4 separate regions of the Homo sapiens genome follow, and all the other regions are linked to region 1. Evidence: fine-mapped expression QTL. A gene starts in region 1. Each other region holds a variant in brackets. All regions are shown on one strand. Distances are between the middles of the regions.

Region 1 (4,881 bases):
CAACATGGTAAACCCCATCTCTACTACAAGTACAAAAATTAGCTGAGTGTGGTACCGTGTGTCTGTAATCACAGCCACTTGGGAGGCTGAGGCAGGAGAATTGCTTGAACCCAGGGGAGGAGGTTGCAGTGAGCCGAGATGGCGCCACTGCACTCCAGCCTAGGTGACAGGGCAAGACTCTGTCTCAAAAAAAACAAAGAACAAAAGACATGAACAGACACTTCTCAAAAGAAGACATACACGCATACAAGCAGCCAACAAACATGAAAAAATGCCCAACATCACTAATCATCAGAGAAATGCAAATCAAAACCACGAGGAGAAACCATTTCACATCAGTCAATGGCTATTATTATTATTATTTTTTCTGCCAGCATCTTGATTTTGGACAGAATGGCTGTTATTAAAAAGTCAAAAAATAGGAGATATTGGCAAGGCTGCAAAGAATGGGGAATACTTATACACTGTTGGTGGGAATGTAAATTAGTTCAGCCACTGTGGAAAGCAGCTTGGAGATTTCTCAAAGAACTTAAAATAGAACTACCCTTCAACCCAGCAATCCCGTTAGTGGGTACACACCCAAAAGAAAAGAAATCTTTCTACCAAAAAGCCATCTGCACTCATATGTGCATAGCAGCACTATTCACTATAGGTTAGATATGGGGTCAACTGAGGTGCCCATCAATAGTGGATTGGATAAAGAAAATGTGGTACATTTCCAACATGGAATACTATGCAGTCATGAAAAAGAATGAAATCTTGTCCTTTGCAGCAACATAGATGCAGCTGGAAGCCATTATCCTAAGTGAATTCATGCAGAAACAGAAAACCAAATATGACATGTCTCACTTCTAAGGGGGAGCTAAACCTTGGGTACCCACAGATATAAAGATGGGAACAAAAGACATTGGGGACTCCAGAAGGGTGGGGGGAGTAGGGCAAGGGCTGAAAAACTTCCTATTGGGTACTGTGCTCACTACCTGGGTAAGGAGATCAACAGAAAACCAAACCTCAGTGTCACCCAATATATCCCCTAACAAACCTGCACATGTACCCCTTGAATCTAAAATAAAAATAAAAATAATAAGTTGTTGATTGGCTACACATTTTTCTCTGTATCACAAGTTGCAGGAACATGCAGATAATGGGTGAGGCAGTGAGTCAGGAACAAAATGCCTTTAAACCATGGCCCCCACGGCCGGGTGCGGTAGCTCATGCCTGTAATCCCAGCACTTTGGGAGGCCGAGGTGAGTGGATCACTTGAGGTCAGGAGTTCAAGACTAGCCTGGCAAACATGGTGAAACCCCGTCTCTACCAAAAATACAAAAAATTAGCTGGACATGGTGGCAGGCCCCTGTAATCCCAGCTACTTGGGAGGCTGAGGCAGGAGAATTGCCTGAACCCAGGAGGTGGAGGTTGCAGTGAGCTGAGATCGCGCCATTGCACTCTCAGCCTGGGTAACAAAGCAAGACTCTAAAAACAAAAACAAAAAACAAACAAACAAACAAAAAACTATGGCCCCCCAAGCACTGCAGGGGGACCTGGACTGAAGTCCTATACTACTGTTTCTCTGGGCCTGATATATTTTGTTGTATCTAAGCTGCTTTCCTCAGATACAAATCCTTCAACAAACCCTAGGGAAAATTTCCTCTCAAGTCCCTCCAATTCTCCCAGTTCTGCCACGCTTTGTACACCCCTAACGAAAGGGGCCAGGTGCAGTAGCTCAGGCACGTAATCCCAACACTTTGAGAGGCTGAGGAGGGTGGATCACTTGAGCCCAGGAGTTCCAGACCAGCCTGGACAACATGGCAAGACTCCTGTCTCTACAAAAACTACAAAAATTAGCTGGGTATGGTGGTGCACACCTGCGGTCCCAGCTACTCGGGAAGCTGAGGCCGGAGGATCGCCTGAATCCAGGAGGTAGAGGCTGCAGTGAACCAAGTTCAAGACACTGCACTCCAGCCTGAACAGAGCGAGACCCCTGTCTCAAAAAAGTAAAATTAAAAATGGGGCCCGGCGCAGTGGCTCACGCCTGTAATTTCAACACTTTGGGAGGTGGAGGCGGGAGGATCGTTTGAGGTTGGGAGTTCGAGACCAGCCTGGCCAACATGGTGAAACCCGGTCTCCACTAAAAATACAAAACTTAGCCGGGCTTGGCGGCGCACGTCTGTAATCCCATCTACTATGAAGGCTGAGGTGGGAGGATCGCTTGAACTCGGGAGGTTGAAGCTGCAGTAAGCCGAGATCGCGCCACTGCACTCCAGCCTGGGCGACAGCGCGAGACTCCGTCTCAAAATAAATAAATAAATACATACATACATAAAGTAAAATAATGAATAAATAAAATAAGAAATGGGGAAATGGATCAGCAAGAAAGTGCCCGCCCCAGGCATGGGTGCCGTGCGGGACGGGGACGCGGCCCAGCCGGGAATCGGGGTGCCCAGGGTGCGATGTGCGAGGGGCTCCTGAGCGCGTGTGCTCCGCCCGACCCCGCCCTGTCCCCCCGACACACAGGTGGACCCAGGGTCAGCTCGTGCACCTGGGAAATGGCTCCCGCCGGGTAGCAGGGGCGGAGGGGCGGGGCTGGGCGGAGGGGCGGGGGGGCGGGGCCTGCCCGGGAGCCACGTCCGGGGAGGGGCCAGGTGAGCGGCAGACCCGGCACGCAGGTGGGGGCCGGCGGGGTCCGTGGCCAGGTAAGGCGGGCGGCGGCGGGAGGGAGCGCGCAGGGAGGAGGCCGTGCTCGGGGTGGGGGGGTGCGCCGCGGGGGCTCCCAGGGCGTGTACGGGGACAAGGGGCCGCTGGCCGGGTAGGGACGCCCAGGCGGGCGCGACGCCACGTGCGGCCGGGGGGAGACCCTCCGGCCGGCGCGCAGCCTCCGGGTCCCCTGTGGGTTCTAGACTCCCTCTCCCTTCACCTCCTTTCTTTCCCGCCCCCCCACACTCCCCTCCTCTGCTTTTTCCCCTGTCCTGTTCCTTCTCACCCCGCACCGCCTTCCCCGCCCTCGCCTCTCTCAGCCTGCGTTTTGGTCTGGTCTGGCCGGACGGTGTCAGCTCAAATGTTCCTTTTTTGCTTCCGTCCTGGGGTCTCAGGTTAGGTCGGGTCAGCGCCTGGGGGAGGCACCTCCCCCGCCCCCACACACCCCAAACCTACAAGGTGGGTGAGGTCATTCCCGTTTCATAGATGAGAAAACGGAGGCCGGGGCAGGTGCTGCGCTGATTCAAACTCAGGGGGTGGGGGGCTGGCCGGTTCAACACACAGCGGTGGAACCCCCCGGGAGTTAAAAGCAGAAACTTTTTTTTTTTTTTTTGACACCGAGTCTTGCTCTGTCCCCAGGCTGGATTGCAGTGTTGCATCTCTGCTCACTGCAACCTCCGCCTCCTGGGTTCAAGCGATTCTTGTGCCTCAGCCTCCCGAGTAGCTGGGATTACAGGGACTGACACCATGCCAGCTAATTTTTTGTATTTTTAGTACAGACAGGGTTTCACCATGTTGTCCAGGCTGGTCTCGACCACCTGACCTCAGGTGATCCGTCTTCCTGGGCCTCCCAAAGTGCTGGGATTACAGTCGTGAGACACCGCGCCCGGCCTAAAAGCCCAAAGTTTAAACCAATCCGCTAGCAGCCTCGGAGGTCGTCAGGAAGGCAGGGAGGCCCTGCCTTTCACTTTCCCTCAATCCTGTGGGGGGTGGGGGGGCTCCTGAGAATCCCTCGGGCTCTGCCACACCCTGACTTGGAAATTTCTCCGCTGCCTTGGGAGGAGTGTGAAGGCCCCGGAGAAGGAACCGCAGAGTCCACCCGGGAAGGAGGGTGGGATTGTTTGGCGGGATGGGGACAGCACCTTGGCCACCGACTTCAGGGTTTTGTGACAGAGGCTGTGTAGATTCCAGAGAGCTCTGTGCCGTCCCTCGCTTGCCTGTGAAATGCAGTGTTGGCATTTGTCCAGCTGAGAACTCAATGCTTAAGACTCAGCCGTTTCAGAAGTCGATGTCCTTTGGTTGGCCTCTCTGTTGGCAGCTTTAGGATCATGTTTGTGGACTCCTCATTCGATTCACTGACTAACCATTCCCCAAACCAACGCCAGAGTTGGGGGTAGGGCGAAGAGGGACATGGGATGTGGGCCTGAGCCCAGCTGATTCTTGTGGACAGCCAGCTGCCTGGTCCCTGCCCTCAGGGGCCCAGAGTCTGGCTTCTGTGTAGAGAGAATCCAAGGGTTTGTGGGAGCTTAGGAAGGGCTTCCTGGAGGAGGTGGCCATTGAGCTGGAAGGTGGATGGGAGGTGGATGGGGAAGAGAATGGCACCTACTGGCTAGGGATACTTCGCTTGTGAGGTACGGGTGGAAAAGTCCATGGAGTGCCTGACGGGGTGGGCCAATTTACTTGGATAACATCATTGGGTCATTGAAACTTTGTGTGTGTGTGTGTGTGTGTGTGTGTGTGTGTGTGACGCAGTTTTCGCTCTTGTCGCCCAGGCTGGAGTGCAATGGCACGATCTCAGCTCACTGCAACCTCTGCCTCCTTGGTTCAAGTGCTTCTCGTGCCTCAGCATCCAGAGTAGCTAGGATTACAGGCGCCCACCACCACACCCAGCTAATTTTTGTATTTTTAGTAGAAGTGGGGTTTCACCATGTTAGGCAGGCTGGTCTCAAACTCCTGACCTCAGACGATTTGTCTGCCTTGGCCTTCCAAAGTGCTTGGAGTGCTGGGATTACAGGCATGAGCCACCACACCCGGCCGAGTCATTGAAACTTACTTGACTTAAACATGCCTGGGACATCATGCCATCTGCCTAACAAGCCAGTTCTAGGCTGAGCTATTCATGGGCACACTGTAAACGATGGAGTTAAAGGCGGCTTCGGTTAAAGAGACGAGAGCAAGGAACTCAGG
Region 2 (4,881 bases), 100 kb after region 1:
TCCCCTCAAAGGCAAATTTACACCCATTTACTCAGCAGTGCTCCTAAGCGCCTGCCAAATGCAACGCCCTTTCTGAGATGGGGAAGGTCTCTCCTACACCCTGGAAGACCATGAAAGATGTTGAGGGCTGACTGACTTTGGCTAGTGGATGGGAAGCCTGGGAGAGTTCAGAGCCAGGCTGAGCCTCATGGAGACAAATTTGATCATGCGCATAGAGGTACCTATCTGGTGGAGACAGAAGGAGGCACTACATTCAGCAGCATCCTACCAGCCGGGGCCAGAGCAGGCAAGATGGACAATGCTCCATCACCTGAATGCGCCAGGCTGTGTCCTAGAGAGAAGCTTCCAGAAGCCTCCCAACTTCATTAGCCCCTGCAGAGGGATGATGACTCCAGCCTCTGTAGGTTCCTGCTTGAGAAAACTCAATGCTGCCAGGCGAACTTACTGTTTGTTCCAGCCAAAACCTGGTGACAGGGAGATAGGCCCTGGAACCCCTCTTTGAGCAGCAGTTCCTTTAGAAAGCTTGCAATTGTGGGCCAGGCATGGTGGCTCACACCTGTAATCCCAGCACTTTGAGAGGCTGAGTTGGGTGGATCACTTGTCATAGGAGTTCAAGACCAGCCTGGTCAACATGGCAAAACCCTGTCTCTACTAAAATACAAAAATTAGCCAAGCGTGGTGGTGCACGCCTGTAATCCCAGCTACTCAGGAGGCTGAGGCAGGAGAATGACTTGAACCCAGGAGGCAGAGGTTGTAGTGAGCCAGGATCGTGCCATTGCACTGCAGCCTAGGTGACAGAACAAGACTCCATCTCAAAAAAAAAAAAAAAAAAAGCTTGCAATTATGAATCCTTTATCTGTCCTTTGAGATGAAAATCATCTACCACCCAGAGCTATGTCAAGGACCTGAGAGCCATCTCTTTGAAATGAAAACATTCAAAGTGCTACCTCTGCCTCCCAGTCCCCGGGGAGGGAAGGACCCAGCTCTGGCTTGCACCACTGCCTCCGGTCATAAAGATACCAGACATTTGTCCACTTCCGGATAGGCACCAATTAACAAACCTGGAGAGCGTAGTCATATTAAGCAACCCTCTGTTGGGAAGGAAAAAATCCTTTCCTGCTACCCGTCTTAGGTTCATTGGTGGGAACCCTGTAACTTGTTATTCTGACAAAAGACAGATTCACACGAGAAAAGCATGCCAGTTTATTTAATGTAAGTTTTACATGACACAGGAGCCTTTTAAATATTTATTTATTTATTTATTTATTTATTTAATTTTTGAGACAGTGTCTCGCTCTGTCGCCCAGGCTGGAGTGCCGTGGCATAATCTCGGCACACTGCAACCTCCACCTGACATGGGAACCTTTATGAAAATGAAGAAAATGAAGACCCAGGCTGGGCATGGTGGCTCATGCCTGTAATCCCAGCACTTTGGGAGGCCAAGGCAGAAAGATCACTTGAGTCCAAGAGTTTGAGTCCAAGAGTTTGAGTCCAGCCTGGGAAACATAGTGAGACCCCATCTCTACAAAAGATTTTAAAAATTGGCTGGGCTTGGTAGTGTATGCCTGTAGTCCCAGCTGCTCAGGAGGCTGAGGTGGGAGATCACCTGAGCCTGGGAGTTGGAGGCTACAGTGAGCCATGATCACACCACTGTACTCCAGCCTGGACAAAAGAGCAAGACCATGTCCCCAAAACAGAAGGAATGATGGAGGGAGGGAGGGAGGAAAGCAAGCAAGAAAGAAAAGAAATAAAGAAAATGGGCCGGGTGCAGTGGCTCACTCCTGTAAACTCAGCACTTCGGGAAGCCAAGGTGGGTGGATCACCTGAGGTCAGGAGTTTGAGATCAGCCTGGCCAACATGGTGAAACCCCGTCTCCACTAAAAATACAAAAATTAGCTGGGCGTGGTGGTGGACACCTGTAATCCTAGCTACTCAGGAGGCTGAGGCACGAGAACTGCTTTGAACCCAGGAGGCAGAGGTTGTAGTGAGCCGAGATCGCACTGCTGCACTCCAGCCTGGGCGACAGAGTGAGACTTTGTCAAAAAAAAAAAAAAAAAAAAAAAAAAAAGGAAGGGAGGAAGGAAGGTGAAGGAAGGTGAAGACATGGTTCAGCCCGAATGTTTTGATACTAGGTTTGGTGAAGAGTGGAAAGTCATGGAGCTTCAATTCCTTTTGTCATTCCGCCGTCTTTAGAGATAAGGCACCCTCTGG[A/G]CATAGGGAAGACCCCCTCCCATTAGAAGGTTTTATGATCTGCTACACAGAAGTAGGGGGAGTCAGAGAGAGCCCTTCCCACACCTGCCTTTCTTAGATTCCTTCAGCTCAATAACATATTCAGCATGCCCAGGCTCCATATTTGGGACAGTAGTGTTCCGGACCCCAGCATTCCCCCATCTGGAACTTTCCCCAGGAAGTTTTACAGTCCAGAAACTGAGTTGGTAGATTGTCTCATGTTGCATGAATCCTTCTCTCAGTGCTGTGACTAGGTCACTCCAGGGAAAGAGTTGTGTCTCAATTCAGGAGGTAGCGGTGGAGGTGGGAGTAGGGTGACTACCTAAGTCAGCCTGTTAATAAGGGGCCTTTCTTTGTCAACAAACATGAAGTTCAGTGGTTTGAACAAACCATAAGTTCCGGGGATTTTTTTTATTTTGTTTTTTGTTTGTTTGTTTTGTTTTTGAGGTGAAGTCTCACTCTCACTCAGGCTGGAGTGCAGTGGCACGATCTCGGCTCAGTGCAACCTCCACCTCCCAGGTTCAAGCCTTTCTCCTGCCCCAGCCTGCCGAGTAGCTGGGACGACAGGCCCGTGTCACCACGCCTGGCTAATTTTTTGTATTTTTAGTAGAGACAGCATTTCACTGTGTCAGCCAGGATGGTCTCAATCTCCTGACCTTGTGATCCGCCCACCTCAGCCTCCCAAAGTGCTGGGATTACAGGCATGAGCCACCGTGTCCGGCCTAAACTCCATTTTTTTAGTCAGGAGAACATTTAGTTGAGAAGATTCCTAGATGTTGGCTTGAAGTATCCTTTCATGGTAGAGAGAGAGTGGCAGCAGCTGGCCAGTGAATTCCATAGTTTGCAATTTAGATGTCTTTGGTGATGGCACTGGGTGTTCCGGTGAACTTTCTGAGCAGACTGAGTAGGAGGCACAAGGACTATCCGTACATCATCTGCTGTGATTTCTCTGAAGTTTATATCAAGTCTTCCAGCGTCAGCTTTTGGGGCTTTGGGGAAATGGCAGGTTTTAGTTCTTTGTCATGCCAACTCAGGGGGTAGGAGAAAACTGGAAATGTTAGCTTGGAGCGTCGTAGCCAGATATTGGAGGAAAGGAGAGGAACTGAGAACCCGCAAGCGTGCGCCGTAGTTTTCCACGGGAGCATCATTTCTCTGTACCGTTGCTTCTCTCTTGATTCTCAGTTACAAAATAAGTCTGGTTTCATTAGAATTTGGCCTGATTATTTACATAAGGGCAGCAAGAATGGGAATTGACCTATGTCGGCTCTTTTTAAGTCTACCTTGCTAGAACTTTTAATAAGGAATCTCAGATTCACTTTTTAAAAGCCTCTTGAGGCTAGAAAGCCAAGTTAAAAATTTGCCATCAGGGCCAGCTGCGGTGGTTCACGCCTGTAATCCTAGCACTTTGGGAGACCAAGGCGGGTGGATCACCTGAGGTTGGGAGTTTGAGACCAGTCTGACCAACATGGAGAAATCCCATCTCTACTAAAAATACAGAATTAGCCAGGCATGGTGGCATGCACCTGTAATCCCAGCTACTCGGGAGGCTGAGGCAGGAGGATCGCTTGAACCCGGGAGGCAGAGGTTGCAGTGAGCTGAGATCTCACCATTGCACTCCAGCCTGGGACACAGCGAGACTCTGTCTCAAAAAAAAAAAAAAAAAAAAAAAAAAAAAAAAAAAAAACCATCAGACTTTGCCTGCAGTATCTGTAGATTTGAGAGAATTCCTCTCTTCTCAAGGTTCTCAATATATTTTAAGTTTCCTGGGCCTGCCAGGAAGCGGCCTTGCTTACTCACTGTAACGTCATACATAACACTGAATAAGGCTAGTTGTCATTTCAAGGAATTCCCCTTGTATCTTTTTTTTTTTTTTTTTGAGACGGAGTCTTGCTTTGTTGCCCAGGTTGGAGTGCAGTGGCCTGATCTTGGCTCATTACAACTTCTGCCTCCTGGGCTCAAGTGATCCATCTGCCTCAGCCTCCGGAGTAGCTGGGATTACAGGTGTGCGCCGCCACACCCAGCTAATTGTATTTTTAGTAGAGACGGGCTTCACCATGTTGCCCAGGCTAGTCTTGAACTCCTGACCTCAAATGATCCACCCACCTCAACCTCCTAAAGTGCTGGGATTATAGGCATGAGCCACCATGCCAGGCCCTTGTTATGCATTTTTAACCCTACTTCACTAGTAAGCCCAACTACATAAAGATGTATGCTTGGATTATACTTAATATGGGTAACTCAGAAGATGCAGCTGGTTTTTTTGTTTTGTTTTTGTGTTGAGATGGAGTCTCGCTCTGTTGCCCAGGCTGGAGTGCAATGGCACCATCTCAGCTCACTGCAACCTCTGGCTCCTGGGTTCAAGCAATTCTCCCACCTCAGCCTCCCGAGTAGCTGGGATTACAGGCACCGGCCATCTTGCCTGGCTGATTTTTGTATTGTTGTAGAGACGGGGTTTCACCATGTTGCCATGTTGGCCAGGCTTGTCTTGAGCTCCTGACCTCAGGTGATCTGCCCGCCTTGGCCTCCCGAAGTGCTGGGATTACAGGCGTGAGCCACCGTGCCCAACCTATACAGCTGTTTTTAATAAACTAACAATATCAGACTAATCTTGTCAGAGTTACTCAAGTCACAAGAACTTGAAAAGAATGTTTG
Region 3 (4,881 bases), 110 kb after region 1:
GCCTTGTAGTCTCTGTTGCAACTACTCAGCTCTGCCCTGATGAGGCAAAAGCAGCCACAGGCAATGTACAAAATGTCCGTGGCTGTGTTCCAAGAAAACGTTATTGGCAAAAACAGGCAGTGGGCCAGATCTAAGCCATGGGCCGTAGTTTGCCAACCCCTGGTCTAGACCACTCCCATTTATAAAGTGATTCGGCTTTAGCAGCTTCCTGGAAGGTGGTGCTGCTGGCTGATAAAGCAGAGGGATGGAGCTTGTAGAATTCAGGTGATGATAGGGCTTGGATCTGAGTCCCCAGCGCGTCTCATGTTGAATTGAAACTTTGGAGGTGGGGACTGGTGGCAGGTGATTGGATCATGAGGGCAGATACCTCATGGGTTGGTGCTGTCCTCGAGATAGTGAGTTCTTACCAGATCTGGTTTAAAAGCATGTGGCACCTCTGTCCCACTCTCTCTTGCTCCTGTTTTTGCCACGTGATGCACCTCCTTCCTTTTTGCCTTCTGCCATAATTGGAAGCCTCCTGAGGCTTCTCCAGAAGCTGAACAGGTGCTGGTGCCATGCTTGTACAGCCTGTAGAACCATGAGCCAGTTAAACCTCTTTTCTTATAAATAACCCCATCTCAGCAAGAATAGCCAAACACACAGGTTTGCTGAGCAGAGCCATACGGCCAGAAGATAAGTGGGGGTCCCAAGCCCAAATGTGGGATAGTCCATCCTCAGAGCTGTCCTTCCTACACCCCTGTTCTCCTCCCGGGCCGGGATGCAGCGCTGCCCCTGGCCCCTCTGGAGCTCAGCAGGGAGCCCCATGCCCTTCCAGGTGTGGAGAGCAGCCTGCGTGTCACTGGCTGCCGCCAGATCTTACGGAGCCTCCCAGAGCACAACTACGTCGTCCTCCGCTACCTCATGGGCTTCCTGCATGCGGTGAGTGGGGAAGGGGGGAGCTTGGGGTGAAGCCCAGTGGCCTTCCCTCCCATGCTGGGCCCGCATGGACCAGTCCCCTCCTTGCCCTGGGTCTGGGGTCATGCCCTGCTTGGGCCTCGGAATACCACTCCCTGCCCCCCAAGGACCTCATCCAAGGCCTGGTCAGGCACCCATGCTGCTGCGGACCTCCTGCCTGTCAGACAGGGCGTACCTGCCCCTGCCTGCTCCTGTACCTGCTGTCCCTCAGCCATTGCCAGTGACTTTTGTTATTGGGGTCCTCTGCCCCCATGTCATTTCCTGCTTGGGCTGAGTCTCTAGGAGGTGGGAGCTGTGTCCACCACTGGTACAGAGCCCAGTGGACTGAGCTGACCATTCCTGGGGAAGGGATACACCCAGAACCACGTACATTAAGTTCCTGTGACTGCATCGTGGGTGCCTTAAAACAGATTTACTGTGTCACTCTTCTAGAGGCTAGCAGTCCAAAAGCAAGGTGTGGCGGGCTGTGCTCCTTCCAGAGGCTCTAGGGAAGGTTCCCCTTCCTGGCCTCTCCCAGCTCCTGGTCACTCCAGCTATGCCTCCAGCTCCCCCCTGGCCTTTGTCTGTGTGTGTGTCTAATCTCCCTCCACCTTTCCCTCCTAAGTGTGGACCCCCTGCCATATGTCACTGGGTTTAGGACCCACCCAGATGACGCGGGATGATCTCATCTTGAGATCCTCAACGACAGCTGCAACGGCCCTCGTTCCAAATAAGGTCACAGTCAGATTCTCTGTGGTCTATCTTAGAGGGGCCACCATTCAATCTACTACACACCAGGCTAAGCAAATGACCAGAGAGAGAGAAACCCTTCAGTGCTCTGGGCCTGGGCTTAGTGTGCTCTCCCCCTGGGGCAGGGATCCATTTGGAGCAAAAACCTGTGCAGCCAACAGGGGAAGGTTCAACACATCCACGTGGGTCCACCCCCAACCCCCAGACCCACGGCCTTGAATGTTTAACCCCCTCCATCTCTCCAGGCCTTCGCCCCAGGCTGTGCAGGGTGAGGAGAGCCTGAGCAGAGTAGGCGTCACATCCCAGAGTCTGTTGGAGAATGTCACTTCTTGGTTTTACAACAATTTTTTTTCTCCCTGTTGCTTGACATAATTTCTCAGAGGCCCAAAACTAAACTCTCCTAATTCTCTCAAAAAAATTTTTTGAGACAGTCTTGCTCTGTTGCCCTAGCTGGTGTGCACTGGTGCAATCTCAGCTCACTGCAACCCCAGCCTCCCACGTAGCTGGGATTACAGGTGAGAACCACCATGCCCGGCTAATTTTTGTTTTTTTAGTAGAGATGGGGTTTCGTCACATTGGCCAGGCTGATCTTGAACTCCTGACCTCAGGTGATCCACCTGCCTCGGCCTCTTAAGAGTGCTGGGATTACAGGTGTGAGCCACTGCACCCAGCCTACTTCTTTTTCATTAGGAGAGACTGATTTCTCTCTCTAGCCGCCACCTCCATGGGCACCGATGTGAATGCACCTGGTGGGGTGTGGTGTTGCGTGTTATCACCCCAGTGGCACCTGGGGGCCTCGGCTTGAGGAGGGGTGGCCTGCAGTGGGCCTGGCTGGTGCACACCTGCAACGGGCTTGGGGGACCGGCAGCCAGGGGGAGCCTGAAAGGCATCCAGCCATCTCACCTGAGCATCCTCAACAGATCTGTGAGGGTGGTGCCTGGCCCTGCCTCCCTCCAGTTCTCTGCTCTGCCCTGGTACTCACCGCCTCATGACCCCTGTTTCTGACTGAGGTTCCCCCCAGCTTGAATCTTGTAGGGAGGCAAGGAGCAGAGAACAGGCCCTGCCCTCACGTTGGTCCACATGGCCCCCTGCCACTGGCTGGCCACATGACCTTGGGCAAGTCTCCTGTACCTTCCA[G/C]GCCCCAGATTCCTCATCTGTAAGATGGGGAGTAATGACTCCCCCGTGCTGGGGTTGCACGTGTTGGCGGAGATGGACAAGGAGCCCCTTCTAGCAGGCAAGCTCTTTCCACTCTCCCTGCCCCTCGTAGTGGCCCCTAGATGTGCTGGCTGGTCCCCATCATGCCCAGTTCGCCACTCACAGAGCCGAGGCCAGAGAGGTCACCAAGTTCGTACCGTCTGTGCTACAGCCCATCCCCAAGATTGCATCTCCCCAGAAGGTGCAGTGGAAGAGGAGATAGTGGGGGGTTGAGGCTGTCACAGAAGGTCAGAGCCAGAGGGTCCTCCAGGACATGGAGGCCAAGCCTTCCTTTTAGAGATAGGGTAACTAAGGCCCTGAGTGGGCAGGTGGCTGCACAGGGTCCCCATTACTGGCTGCCGGCTCCCAGTCCAGTGCTCCTCTCACTACACCTACGCCTCTCCCTAAGTTCGGGAGGGAGTTCCAGGTGCCCGTGCCCCTTGGTGTTCACTCCCCTTTACTTGTGTGTGGTTTCCTCCAGGTGTCCCGGGAGAGCATCTTCAACAAAATGAACAGCTCTAACCTGGCCTGTGTCTTCGGGCTGAATTTGATCTGGCCATCCCAGGGGGTCTCCTCCCTGAGTGCCCTTGTGCCCCTGAACATGTTCACTGAACTGCTGATCGAGTACTATGAAAAGATCTTCAGCACCCCGGAGGCACCTGGGGAGCACGGCCTGGCACCATGGGAACAGGGGAGCAGGGCAGCCCCTTTGCAGGAGGCTGTGCCACGGACACAAGCCACGGGCCTCACCAAGCCTACCCTACCTCCGAGTCCCCTGATGGCAGCCAGAAGACGTCTCTAGTGTTGCGAACACTCTGTATATTTCGAGCTACCTCCCACACCTGTCTGTGCACTTGTATGTTTTGTAAACTTGGCATCTGTAAAAATAACCAGCCATTAGATGAATTCAGAACCTTCTAATGAAAACTCCATGCCTCTGGTCCTTGGACTCTTGTCCATGGTTCCTGAGCTGTGGACCGGGATAGAATAATGCATTTGTTAGGATGGATGTTTTGAATCCCAACCCAATGTGGTTTAACTGAAAACAGGAATGGAGTGGCTAACGGCTGCCAGGTCCTGCTGCTGCCACACTGCTGTGTAACACACCACCTAAGCCCAGTCACTGAAAGTTACTGCCCAGGAGTCAGTGGGTCAGCTGGGTGGTTCTATTGGTCTTTTGAGGGGGTCACTTACATGTCCTGGCTGAGCTGGCTGGCAGCTGGGGTGACTCTGTTCTCCCCCAGGTGTCCCAAGTCCTTCCAATGGCCAAACGGGGCACATTCTTACAACATAGGTCCAGGTGCACACACAAGCGCTATTGCAAGCAGTTTTCATGCTTTGACTGGCGTCCTGTATGCTCACATCTCATTGGCCAAAGCAAGCCTGGTGGCCAAGGCCAGGGTCACAGAGGGAGGGCCCTGCAAAGGGGGTGGATATGGGGAGGGTGAAGAATTGGGCATAAAGCAGCCAAGCTGCCCGAGGGCTCTGGGGTGCGACAGGACTCTGCAGTCTCAGGCAGGCTGACTCTTGGGCTGGCAAAACGGGCCCTGTATTTCCATCAGATATGGTAGAGAAGGATACAACTTCTTAGTGCCACAGTCCCAGCAAAAAAGCCCCAGGTTCACCCTGATTGGACAAGCCTAGGTCACATGCTCACCTTAGACCCATTGCTGCAGCCAGGGAAGGCTCTGATTGGCTTAGGCCTGAGTCTTGTGCCCCACCCAGACCAGGCAGTGGGGGAGGAGTGGCAGGCCGCTGCAGGGGATTACCCACGAGTCCCACGCTGCCGTCTCCCCAGCTCTTGATGCAGGGAGAAGCGGGGGAGGTTCTGGGGAGCAAAGGACAAAAGTCCCCTCTACAGATCCCCCATGGTGGCCCCTCCGTGCCTGCTTGGGGTGTTGACCGAGTTGTGCCGGGACCCCCGGTACGCGTTAGGATGCTTGGGGGAATCACTGGCAGCCCCAGGCCAAACCCACACCCAGGGCTCTCCTCTGAAACTTAGAG
Region 4 (4,460 bases), 34 kb after region 1:
AGCCTGTCCCCATCATTCTCTCTGCCTCCACCCATGGTCATGGCTGCTTCCTTGACTCAGCCCTTCCTGCCTCATTCTTGTAAGGACCCCCTGCAATTATACTCAACCTCTGCACCCACGGGTTCTGTATCCAAGGATGCAACCAGCTGCAAATCAAAAATACTTCATAACATAATACATAAAAAATACAATAATAAAAGCAATGCAAAAATCTTAATACCACAATAAAACCATGCAAATTAAAAATAAAAAAAAAGTACACTGCCAGCCACGGTGACTCACACCTGTAATCCCAGCACTTTGGGAGGTCAAGGAAGGCAGATCACTTGAGGCCAGGGGTTCGAGACCAGTCTGGCCAACATGGTGAAACCCTGTCTCTACTAAAAAGACAAAAATTAGCTGAGCGTGGTGGTGCATGCCTGTAATTCCAGCTACTCAGGAGGCTGAGGCAGGAGAATTGCTTGAATCCAGGTGGTGGAGGTTGCAGTGAGCAGAGATCATGCCACTGCACTCCAGCCTGGGCGAGGGAGTGAGACTCGGTCTCAAACAAAACAAAACAACAACAAACAGTATAAAAATTCCTTACATAGCATTTACATTGTATTTGGTATTATAAGTAATCTAGAGGTGATTTGAACAATACGGGAGAATGTGTGTAGGTTCCTTGCAAACACTATGCCATTTTCTATCAGGGATTTGAGCTTCCAAAGATTTTGGTATCCCTGGGGGGTCCTGGAACCAATCCCTCCAGGATACTGAGAGACAACTGTACTTTGGGCCCAACTGGATAATCCACGATAACCCACTCATCTCAGGATCCTTAACTTAATCCCCTCTGCAGAATCGCTTTTGCCACAGACAGTCACATGCACAGGGTCCAGGGAGCGGGATGTGGACCTCACTGGGAGGCCTCTGTTCTGCCCGACGCAGGGGCTTTGCCTGTGTGGCTGCTGGGTCCTCACTGCCGGAAAGTGTTCTTGGCACATAGTAGGTACTCAATGCATATTTGTTGACTGACTGGAAGGAGGGGTGTCCTGTGGCACCCCCTACTCACCCCACCCTGGGACCCTCACACCTGTTGATGAACAGGGGCCTTGGCCCCATCCCCCGCCCCATTCCTGCACAGAGTGGTGCTGAGTAAATACCAGGTAAACACCCCAAGGACTGGGGTAGACCGGGACTGAGTGGGCAGGGAGGTGTGGGAAGCAGCTTCCAGCCCATGTGAGGCAGCCCTCAGGCCCCGCCTCACGCTCCCTCCTCGATGGGGTGTTGGTCTGGATGAGTGAATCTCAAACCTGACTTTGCATCAGAATCACCTCCAGAAATTGTTAGAAAAGCCAGTGCTTTCTCCTCGGGCACCCTCACCAGCCTCGTCATGCCCTAGGCCTCCTAACTCCATGGGACCTGAATCTACCCATCTCCTCGGGCCGCCAGCAAAGTGCCACAACCTGGCGGCTTAAGACAACAGGTCACTGTCTCAGTTCTGGAGGCCACCAGTCCAAAGTCAAGGTGTCTGCAGAGCTGCACTTTCCCGAAGGCTCCAGGGGAGGGTCTTTTTTGCATCTTCTGGTGGTTCCTGGTGTCCCTTGGCTTGCGGCCGCATCACACTAGTCTGTGACTCCGTCCTCACACACCCTCCCCTTGTATCTCCTGAGTCATTGGATTCAGGGCCCACCTTGATCCAGTTGACCACATCTTAACTACTTACATCTCCAAAGACCCGACTTCCAAATAAGGTCACATTCCGAGCTCCAGGAGGAATACTGGGGTGGGGAGGGGATAGTCTTCAACCCCCTACACCTGGGATCCTACATCTGCTCTAACCTTGAAATTCAAAATTCCTGTTCTTTTTTGCAGCTGAAAACATTTCTCTAAGAACCCTGATTGGTTTTGCATGAGAACCTCCCCTGCTAAGATTCAACTTAGGAGGGCAGCCTTTTCTTTCTTCCTCATATGGCAGTGACCCCAGTGCCTGCCCTCAACCCCAGCCCACCTTGGTGCTTTCGGCAGCACTGGCTTCCTGCTGGCTGCCAGTGTCAGGGTCTTTCATGGAGGCCTGGCTCAGAATTTGGAGCTGGAGGTTCAAGGTTAAGTCCACACCTTGCTGCCAGTTAGCAAGTCACTCTCCCTCTCTGAGCCTTAGTTGCCACCCCTGTCAATGTGGACAGTATCTGACCCTTAGGTCTTATTTTTCTCCCTCCATGGTGCTGGACACTGGATGGGCACTTGGTGTACAACCGAGGTAGAGTACACAGTGGGTGCATGGCTGAGGTAGGTCGCATAGTGGGTGCTCGGCTGATGTCGAGTGCATAATGGGTGCTCGGCTGAGGTAGGGCGTATAGTGGGTGCTCGACTGATGTAGAGTGTATAATGGGTGCTCGGCTGAGGGAGGGCGCGTACTGGGTGCTCGGCTGAGGCAGGGCGCCTAGTGGGTGCTCGGCTGAGGCAGGGCGCGTAGTGGGTGCACGGCTGAGGTAGGGCGCGTAGTGGGTGTGCAGCAGAGGTGGGTGACTGTCTTATGAAAGGCATCAGGAGGCTCCCTCATTCCCCGCCTTACTGGAGAATGCACTGACTTCCTTTA[ATCT/A]TCTTTGCCGCAGAGCTGCAGAGAGACAAGGCGGCGGCGGCTGCTGTGCTGGGTGCAGTGAGGAAGAGGCCCTCGGTGGTGCCCATGGCTGGCCAGGATCCTGCGCTGAGCACGAGTCACCCGTTCTACGACGTGGCCAGACATGGCATTCTGCAGGTGGCAGGTAGGGCCCCAGCTGGGCAGTCTGCAGGACCATGGGCAGAGCAGCCTTCCTCTCGGCAACTTTGAGGCAAAGTGGGCTCGTCAGGGGCTGCCTCACTGCAGCTGGGCAAGATTGAAATCTAATTAGAGCCAGGTGCAGTGGCTCATACCTTTAATCCTAGCACTTTGTGAGGCCAAAGTGGGCAGATTGCTTCAGCCCACGAATTCGAGACCAGCCTGGGCAATGTAGTGAGACCCCATCTCTACAAAAAAAATACAAAAATCAGCCGAGCATGGTGTTGCATGCCTGTATTCCCAGCTACTTGCGGGGCTGAGGTGGGAAGATTGCTTCAGCCCGGGAGGCAGAGGTTGCACAGTGAGCCAAGATCACACCACTGCACTCCAGCCTGGGTGACAGAGTGACAGAGTGGTGAGACCCTGTCTCAAAAAAACAAAAAAAAAAAAAAGAAAGAAGTAAAACTAATTGGAAAAGGAGGGCCTGCTAGTGTGTTTGGAGAAATAAATTACACACTTGTCAAAGCATTGCCCAGGTGCTCCGAGAAGCCAACGGGCAGTGTCCTGCTAGGCTTTAAAGAGCAGAGGCTGAAATTTAATGAATTGTTTTATTAATCAAGGGCACTGTTATGTCTCATCCAAAGCAACAAACATCTGCAAAAACGTAGACAACAAACAACTCCGTGCCCAGCAGTTGGTCAGAGGAAAACATCTTGCGTTGCTTTGTTTTGTTTTGTTTTGTTTTGTTTTGTTTTGTTTTGTTTGAGACAGGGTTTCGCTCTGTCGCCCAGGCTGGAGTGCAGTAGTACGATCCCAGCTCACAGCAACCTCTGCCTCCCGGGTTCAAGAGATTCTCCTCCTCAGCCTCCCAAGTAGCTGGGATTACAGGCGCTCACCCCCACACTCAGCTAATTTTTGTATTTTTAGTAGAGACGGGGTTTCGCCATTTTGGTCAGGCTGGTCTTGAACTCCTGACCTCAAGTGATCCACCTGTCTCGGTCTCCCAGAATGCTGGGATTATAGGCGTGAGCCACCGTGCCCGGCCTTGCATTGCTTTAATTTAGGTCTGAGCATGCATTTCTCCCATGGGCAGTGAGTCCAACCCTCACGTTGATGTCCCCTGCACTGAGCTCCATAATCATTAGCTGTCATCTCTGAGGGGCCTGGAATCTTGTCAAGGTAATAATAAAAAGAGGCCAGTTCTCAAACAGTTAAAGACCCCAGAAACATGATAAACACTTTAGTGCACACTGTGTACAGGAGGGACAGCAAGAGGGCAGGACTTGACAGGCACTCAGTCATTTGAAGCCCCAAATGTCCTTTTTTTTTTTTTTTTTTTTTCCCCCCAAATGTCCTTTTAAGAAAACTTCTAGGATTTAGGTAGAGGGAACACTGGACCGAGTGTGAGGAATGCAGATCCCCTGGCCAGGTGCCAACAGAAGGAAGGCAGGAAATATATATTTTTAATTTATATAGTGTTTAAAATTTTTATTATATGTTATTATTATTATTATTATTATTTTATTATTGTTATTTTGAGATGGAGTTTCATTTTGTCACCCAGACTGGAGTGCAATGGCACGGTCTTGGCTTACTCTAAACTCCACCTCCCGTGTTCAAGTGATTCTCCTGTCTCAGCCTCCCAAGTAGCTGGGATTACAGGCGCCTGCCACCACACCCAGCTAATTTTTGTGTTTTTAGTAGAGACAGGGTTTTGCCA

Direction of the effects. Alleles are on the strand shown, and positions count from the first base shown. SD is a standard deviation of normalised expression in the study named. Not every link is listed here.
For the expression in spleen of the gene that starts at base 2,641 in region 1, allele C in region 3 goes with a lower level than allele G (small effect, 0.38 SD a copy in GTEx).

The links. PIP is the estimated chance that this variant, and not a neighbour inherited with it, causes the effect.
Region 2: its variant is the best candidate, but not a certain one, in a credible set for the expression of ARHGAP8 in pancreas (GTEx, PIP 0.80).
Region 3: its variant is the best candidate, but not a certain one, in a credible set for the expression of ARHGAP8 in spleen (GTEx, PIP 0.76).
Region 4: its variant is the best candidate, but not a certain one, in a credible set for the expression of ARHGAP8 in whole blood (TOPMed, PIP 0.60).

The regions. Positions count from the first base shown.
Region 1 is chr22:44,749,935-44,754,815 of GRCh38, forward strand. It overlaps ARHGAP8 (Rho GTPase activating protein 8), which reads left to right and starts at 2,641. Exons shown (of 12, transcript NM_181335.3): 1 at 2,641-2,693. All of the region lies in intron 4 of PRR5-ARHGAP8 (PRR5-ARHGAP8 readthrough), which reads left to right.
Region 2 is chr22:44,850,150-44,855,030 of GRCh38, forward strand. All of the region lies in intron 13 of PRR5-ARHGAP8 (PRR5-ARHGAP8 readthrough), which reads left to right. The region is part of intron 10 of ARHGAP8 (Rho GTPase activating protein 8); the gene reads left to right. Among named protein-coding and RNA genes, the nearest start is that of ARHGAP8, 100 kb to the left of the region's middle. The variant A/G (reference allele first, on the strand shown) is at 2,212.
Region 3 is chr22:44,858,917-44,863,797 of GRCh38, forward strand. PRR5-ARHGAP8 (PRR5-ARHGAP8 readthrough) reads left to right here. Exons shown (of 15, transcript NM_181334.6): 14 at 815-918; 15 at 3,359-3,868. The coding sequence ends at 3,679. It overlaps ARHGAP8 (Rho GTPase activating protein 8), which reads left to right. Exons shown (of 12, transcript NM_181335.3): 11 at 815-918; 12 at 3,359-3,868. The coding sequence ends at 3,679. LOC105373062 (a long non-coding RNA gene) reads right to left here. Exons shown (of 4, transcript XR_938302.3): 2 at 4,535-4,705; 3 at 4,072-4,295; 4 at 540-567. Among named protein-coding and RNA genes, the nearest start is that of ARHGAP8, 110 kb to the left of the region's middle. RefSeq lists enhancers at 438-1,132, 4,657-4,881. The variant G/C (reference allele first, on the strand shown) is at 2,821.
Region 4 is chr22:44,783,860-44,788,319 of GRCh38, forward strand. PRR5-ARHGAP8 (PRR5-ARHGAP8 readthrough) reads left to right here. Exons shown (of 15, transcript NM_181334.6): 5 at 2,598-2,747. ARHGAP8 (Rho GTPase activating protein 8) reads left to right here. Exons shown (of 12, transcript NM_181335.3): 2 at 2,598-2,747. The coding sequence starts at 2,669. Among named protein-coding and RNA genes, the nearest start is that of ARHGAP8, 34 kb to the left of the region's middle. RefSeq lists enhancers at 2,029-2,569, 2,570-3,110. The variant ATCT/A (reference allele first, on the strand shown) is at 2,582.